Homo sapiens: one gene and its partner. Changing the gene in region 1 together with any one later gene gives a genetic interaction. Each region holds a gene or a part of one and is shown on either strand. Other genes may lie near its edges.

Evidence for each region.
Region 2: changes in LRP8 (region 1) and SLC7A11 are lethal when combined (synthetic lethality), as found in Homo sapiens cells (one study listed by BioGRID).

What each region holds. Positions count from the first base shown.
Region 1 is NC_000001.11:53,244,683-53,248,118, forward strand, and holds part of LRP8 (low-density lipoprotein receptor-related protein 8 isoform 1 precursor), read right to left. Parts: intron 2,375-3,436; coding exon 2,336-2,374; 3' UTR 1-2,335. UniProt on the Homo sapiens protein: Cell surface receptor for Reelin (RELN) and apolipoprotein E (apoE)-containing ligands. LRP8 participates in transmitting the extracellular Reelin signal to intracellular signaling processes, by binding to DAB1 on its cytoplasmic tail.
Region 2 is NC_000004.12:138,218,342-138,222,174, forward strand, and holds part of SLC7A11 (cystine/glutamate transporter), read right to left. Parts: intron 1,025-3,833; coding exon 925-1,024; intron 1-924. UniProt on the Homo sapiens protein: Heterodimer with SLC3A2, that functions as an antiporter by mediating the exchange of extracellular anionic L-cystine and intracellular L-glutamate across the cellular plasma membrane.

The DNA of each region.
Region 1 (3,436 bases):
TCATTTTTTTCTGTGAATGCCAGGATCTTACTGAAAGTTTAGAAACTATGCCTTAGCCACTGTTATCATTTAATTCCTTGGAAAATTCAGTTTCTTTGGAAGGTTACAGAAAAAGTCACTTGTTTTGAGTACATTTCCATGTTTTTCACTGTCATCATTTTTCTTCAGTCAAAAATAATTTTACTTTCCGTTCTTAAAAGAATAGTAATATGTGAGTAAGCTCCATAGGAGTTGGCCACCTGTTCTTAAAATTCTGTTTGGTATTGGTCATTCTAGGTCAACTGCATTTACCCTCTCAATGAATGTTTCAGGACTATCAACACATGCATGTCATGAGGAGATTGCTGGATTATGCAAAACACACTGCCCAAGCTCCAGAATATAGTTATTTTCTTAGAGTTTAGGAGGCCAAGAGTGACACAGAGGAAGGTCCTAGGTACAGGATGCTAGAACTCCAGAATGTCTGACTGAAAATTCAAAGGGTATCAAGCTGGTGAGACATCCAACTTCATTGAGTTGGGGGCATCTGGCAGGTAGGGATGGGAAGGCATTTGCTTAAGTGTGTCAAGTTCCAGGTATGATGAGATTAGATGCAGCTCCTCTGCTCCTACTTAAGTCAAACACTTCCATGTTGCACCTTGTCCCTGGTTGTCTAGTGGGAGTAAGTGGCAGAACAGCAGAGTTAAGAAACTCAAACTCTTTCTCTTTGGATGGGAAAGCCACTGGGGACTGAATCCTTCTGGGACTATAGGATTATGTTTCCAATGGGAGACCCCACAAGTAGAAAAGAGCACTTCTCCCTTCCTCCCCCAAGGCCAAGAAAAGCAAAGAAGATGTCTATAATGAAGAACATCTATACATATACCCGGAGTTTTTCCTTTTATTTACAAAGCAGTAAACCAAATTCCTGTGTGAACATAAATATCCAATATAATATAATATTGCGTATGCCATTTCCCCCCTCAAATATGACTTCAATTTTGGCCAGTTGTTCTGACTTAAGCCAAAAATTAGTTTCATCTATATGAACATATGATGGTAAGTAACCTATTTATTACCTTAAAATGTTTCCCCACATAAAGGAAATGGTAGAGAGTAAGGGGAAAAGAGAAATAAGAGATGTGATAAAACCTATTCCACCATCTTTATCTTCATCCACAGCATGTCCTAGACATTCAGTGCCTGGGCCAGTCTCTATAGTAAACTTGGGCTGATCTGGAAACGTCTCCACTTAGCTCTGTAAGGATGGCACCCTTCAGGGTGCTTCAGAGGAAACTTACTGAATTCAACCCAAGTGTCCTGAAAGAAATTGAAGAAGTTACTCAAAGAGCTGAACTTTAAAACAAGGAGTAGCTGAGGGTGAGGCATATCCTATCTTGAGTTTCTGAGCACTCTGGTACCATGGAATGTCTGTACACTGACCTTCGCCAAAGCCAAGAAAGCCCTGGTAGGAGTCACAGCAGCCATGGGTGAGCTGAAAGGCTTTTCCTGACTTCCTGGGGTCTCAGGAATAGCCAGAGGTGAAAAGATTTGCCTTTTTTACTACATAATTGCACAAACCATGGTATCTATTTTCTGATCCAGATTTCCAAAGGCTTTTCTGAAAACTACAAGATATACCCCTTGTGGACTGTGTGAAAATAAATTTATCTTTATGTATTTGAACAGTAGCCATAGATGTGCCTCTTCTCTACAGATTTTTCTGTCACACACATACACATATAAACACACACATACACACACAGAGTCTGTGTGGTGGGCCAAACATGCCAAAAATAAATACTCTCACTTCTCTAAATTATTTATAGAACTCATCTGATTTTTAAAATATGTTAATAAATAATCTAAATGGGGGAGGGAGTTGAAGTGTTTTTTTTTTTTTTTTACTTATGTTGATGGATAGCCACAAAGCATAATCATCTTATTTACAAAAAACAAATGCCCCAAAACCTAAAAAAGCCCCCCCAGCAACCAAACATCTTCTGTAAATATAGTTTTTAAATGATGAGTAAGGTACTGTGCCATTGGCCCCCATTTGGTTATGTGCATCATGTTAGTCAGCAGTAGCCATTCCACGAATTCCTCATGGGTAGTGCAACCAGTTAAAAAGTGTATAAAACATTATACATAGAAAAACTCTCACATCCTTTGGATGTTTGCAGTTCATCATAACTTTGTGGTTACCTTTCCGCAACATAAATTTAAAAAAAAAATCACACACACACATACACTCACACAGACCCATATATAGAAACCCATTCATCCAGTCATACACCATCCAGAGTGTAGTGCATGGGACTGAATTCCATGAGGCACGAAGGGGGTGATCCCATCCTCAGGGTAGTCCATCATCTTCAAGGCTTAATGCCACTCGCTGGGGAGACAAACCAAAGAATTCATCATTAGATCCATAAGAGTTACTATTTATTTAGTATTGACAAATCACAGACTTACGTTACTTTAACAGGTATTAGCTCACATAATGTTCAAACTATCCTAAGAGACAGGATTTATCCTATTTATTTTACAGATGAGAAACAAAACTCAATGAGCTTAAGTAGGGTTTGTTCTGGATCACATAGCAAGTGGCTGAACTAAAATTTGATCCCAGGTCTGTATGAATCCAAAGCTGTAGATTTTTTCATCATTCTGTTTTGTATCTTTGTAAAGAAGAGTTGCACAGATCTAAATTTTCTTAATCCTCCCTTATAGGATTTTAGGTTTGGTCAATTTCAGTGGGTTAGCTTTGGCAAATGTTAAATTTCAGGCTATGGGGTTACTTGTCTCTAGCATGCTAATCACATTTAGAAAGGTAATATACTGCACCTTCCCAACAGATTAAACACAGTTGGGAGGCAATGCAGGTTAATTAAATTCCATCCCTCTCTCCCTCACCCCTGCTTTCCAGTCATTAGGTAGATGCTAGACTCCTGTCTGCCAAAAATGGCTGACCATGGGAAGGTGAGCCCACTAACCCCTGAACCAGTCTATTCCATTGTGGACAACAGATTTAAATTCTTTCCTATATTAATGTGAAATTTGTTTGTTTATATCTTCTGACATTCCCTGATTCCATCTCAGACTCAGAGACAGTTCTACATAGGACAACCCTTGAAATTTATAGATGGTGTTTGAATTCCCTTCCGTTCATTCTGAGTGTTTTCTTCTCCAGGGTACACATCTAACTTTCCCCAGCTAGTCCTGATGTAATCTTGTTTGCCTCTTTTCCATTTCCCAGATACCCTCCTTTGGAAAGACCCTCCCCAGCTTCAGTACTTTTCCTCATAGTTATGTGAATTTGGGCCAGCCACTTTACTTCTCTGAGACTTAGTTTTATCATCTATCAAATGGGAATAGTAACAGGACCTACCTCACAGGGTTGTTGAGGAATCAAATGAGATAATGCACAGAGAGTGTTTAACATAGTACCTAACAA
Region 2 (3,833 bases), on another chromosome or scaffold:
TTATAGATAATTAAAAAATAAACATTGCCATGATTTATCCCAAAACAATGAAATTTAATCTTACTACAATGATTTTGATAATTAAATAATACCTTGTAGGCTTTCTTGCAACCATCATCTCAACTAAATCTTACAAGGTCAATAAAATTTACTGAAGAGAAAGTCCCACTCTTATCCATGATTACATGATTACTGTTTTTCAAGTATCTGAACAAATAAGGTACAAATACAAAGTTTTAATGCCTTAACTAGAAAGGTAGGTATCACAGGTGGACATACATCAAAGGAAATATATCTGTGGCATCATGATTTTAATCATCTTCACTTTTTTAAATTTTCAGATGTTGGGGACATTTTAAGGAACATGTAAGGTCCTTTTAAATGTAATAGACTGTCTAGAAGAGTTGACTGCATTATCTTGGTTTCTCTTTCTCTGCCTTTAGATTACCATTTACCTTCTGGGAATGTCATACTTATTTCTACATCTGAGTTACTTCTCTCACGAGAAGCTGGAAAAAAAAATCAATTAATCACTATTTGTAAACACCCTTGGAGCTTTAGCTGAAAGGCCTTTTGACAAGCGAAGTATTATTCTTTAGTACCTTACGGCACTATTATGTCCTTACTGGTACATACTTATAAGTAATTTTTATTGGATCTTAAGACCCAGCATTTGTTTGTTTTTTATGACATCAGGCTAAATCTAGCAGTCACCTTGACTGGAAACCTGTTATGTTTAGTTGTCATGTGCAAAGTAATTGGCCTGGTGGAGGGGATAATACCTTATTTCTCATTTCAAGTAAAGCCTATCACACTGGATTATGGCTATTCACATTTGCCTGGCACCTTGCTTGGCACTTAATCTGAGTGCATAATGGGATTAATGAACTACGCAAACCACCAGATCTGGAGCTATCAACTTACCAGCCAGCATATGCATACATTCCATAATAAAAAGCCAGTGGCAACCGCGTAATACTTGAATCTCTTCCTGAAAAGGCGTCTTTAAAGTTCTGCGTTTGACCTGTAATTAGAATAGACTGATTTTAGGATTTTTCAAAGAATTGGTTCTTATTCACTCTTAACCAGAAACATGGGGGTGCGGAGAAACATACTGTTGTAAGTCTAGATTTCTTACTCTCTGTTGATTACCATCTTTATCAATACTGTACCCATTCTATAGAAGGGGTCCCAAAAGTATATTGATCATTAACACTATTTCATATTTCTCTTTTAATAAATTTATAACAAAGATGAAAATGGCATTGAAAAATAATCCTCTGTTTGAGTATGCCTCTATTGTGACCATAAAAGAAGACTAAAGGGTTTTCTGTAAATTATAATCTTTATGAATATGATAGAATTCTTAAAAGATAGAATTCTTAAAAAGATAATGTTTTGCTTGGCAAGAAAATGCGGAGAGGTATCCAAGGTTCTACCCTTAATGAGGAGATGGAAATAAATCCCAGGACTCCTTTCCTACACAATTTACCTTTCTGCTTTCTGTTTATCCCATGTTGTTCATTAGATGCCTACCTCCTAGAAGAGAAGTTGGAAAATCCTGAAGACCATGTGTGTCAACCCAAACTGCAAGCCTTTCTTTTTTTATTTTTTTCAAGATGGAGTCTCACTCTGTGGCCCAGGCTGGAGTGCAGTGGCACAATCTTGGCTCACTGCAACCTCCGCCTCCTGGGTTCAAGTGATTCTCCAGCCTCAGCCTCCTGAGTAGCTGGGATTACAGGAGCGCGCCATCATGCCCAACTAATTTTCATATTTTTAGTAGAGATGGGGTTTCACCATGTTGGCCAGGCTGGTCTTGAACTCCTGATCTTGTGATCCGCCCGCCTCGGCCTCCCAAAGTGTTAGGATTACAGGTGTGAGCCACTGCGTCTGGCTGCAAGCCTTTCTTATAGATAAAGTTTTCTTTATCTATAAGTTAAAAATGCCCATTCATGAAGTATTACCCATTCATGAAGTATTGCCTATGGCTGATTTCAACCTATAATAGCAGAGTTGAGACCATACAGCTAGCTTGAAAAATTGAAAATATTTACTCTCTTGTCCTTTACAGAGAAAGTCCACTCACTCTGTGACCCTGTCCTAGAGAATGACATGTTTTTTTTCCTAGAAATATTGAAAAGATATTATAATGAACTCTAAAATAAATAGGTTTCAACAAATTTTGCAGCAGCATGTGAATTGAACACTTCACCTTTTTCTCTATTTTATGAATCACATTGGAGCTTTTTCTTTTATATCTTTTGAATAGTTTTAAAAGTTAGAAATTCAGATTTACTTTAGTCAGTCAATATTCAAGCTTAAGCAGAAAAAATGTTTCTATTACCCAAAGAAAATAGCAAATGAGATTACCCAAATGGGAAGTGAGACTTTGTTTTAAAATAAAACTTCATGTAAATAAACAGAAGGGGGACAGGGGGTGGATGATGTGTATGAGACACTCTCTCTTCCAAGTCAAATCTCAGTTTTTCCTGCATTCATTGCCCAGGCATAACTTATATATAAATATAATATGTGTGAGTATGAAGACCAAAAATGGAGAATGTTGAATTATATACTAAACAATTTTTCTCTCAAATGATTCCCAAACATAGCTCACTTTTTAAATGACATGATAAATTCAGAAATGCCCATTTTACTAAAACATCATTGTGTCCTTCCAGGAGAAAAATATAAATAGTGGAATTCAGATAAAAGCATCTGTTGAATATTCTTTTATCATAATCTGTGGTCTCTTTGGCATAAAGGCACAATATTTCTTAGAGTGCAGCACCAAATAATCCATAAGAAAAACCAAATTCTATAAAGACTGGGTCACAAGCAAAGATCTTCAAAAGTGCCATTTTGAGAATATTACAAAAGAGAGGCATTTTGTTTCTAGAATTCAGGAATATTTTGGCTATATAACAGAGGTCTCATGAAGATTAAAGGCAATATTCAAAGGAAAGTTCAACAAACTCTCATAAGTGAATACATAACATACAACTACTTTCAGGATATGATTAGAATAGAAATAAAAGCACAATCTGTATTAACAAAGTCTCCTACTAGAGTTTCAGATTAATGTGAAAAATGTGTGATCATGTTAGAGATGAAGAAAATCACAATTTTACAGCAATCGAGCAAATATACCTGCTAATAATGGTCTCTAAAATGTTAAATTTACATTAAATGCGGTAATATTCTCAGGGAATTTCTCTGTTGTGTGAGATCTCTGAATAAGCCTGTCACATTAAGCATTGATATCATGATTATTGATTAAAGTGTCTCTGTATTTTAGCCACTAAAAAAACCTCAAGATATATCATGACCTCTGCTCTCAAGGAATTTGCAATAGAGCAACATTTGGGCAACCAAACCCTTCCTCATATACATATATAAATACCTGGTAAAAATTGAATAAAGTCTATAATGCTACCTATAGTATCTTACATTACACCAAAAAGAAGAAGAAAATAAATCTTAGTTTCAAGGGATAGCATATAATCTTTTGGAATCTAAACTAGTATTAAAGAACAGCCAATGACCCAGAGATTCTGCACTTTTCAAATACTGAAGAAACTCCTTACAGAAGACTGAAGAGTTAGCTCAGAAAAATAAAGCACTAACAAAACAGATTATTGTGCCTACATTCCTAACGAATAAGATAGAAATGAGCAGGCTAGCTCTGTGGAGGCCAAGGTGTATTAGAAGAGCAAGCTCCTGTCTTCTCTTCAGTGCAAGCTCTAACGGTCAAAATCTTCATTGTGTTTATTCTGCATTGGCTGCTGTTGCTGGATTTCATAAAAGCATTTCCGCCAGCAGGGCTCTAAAAT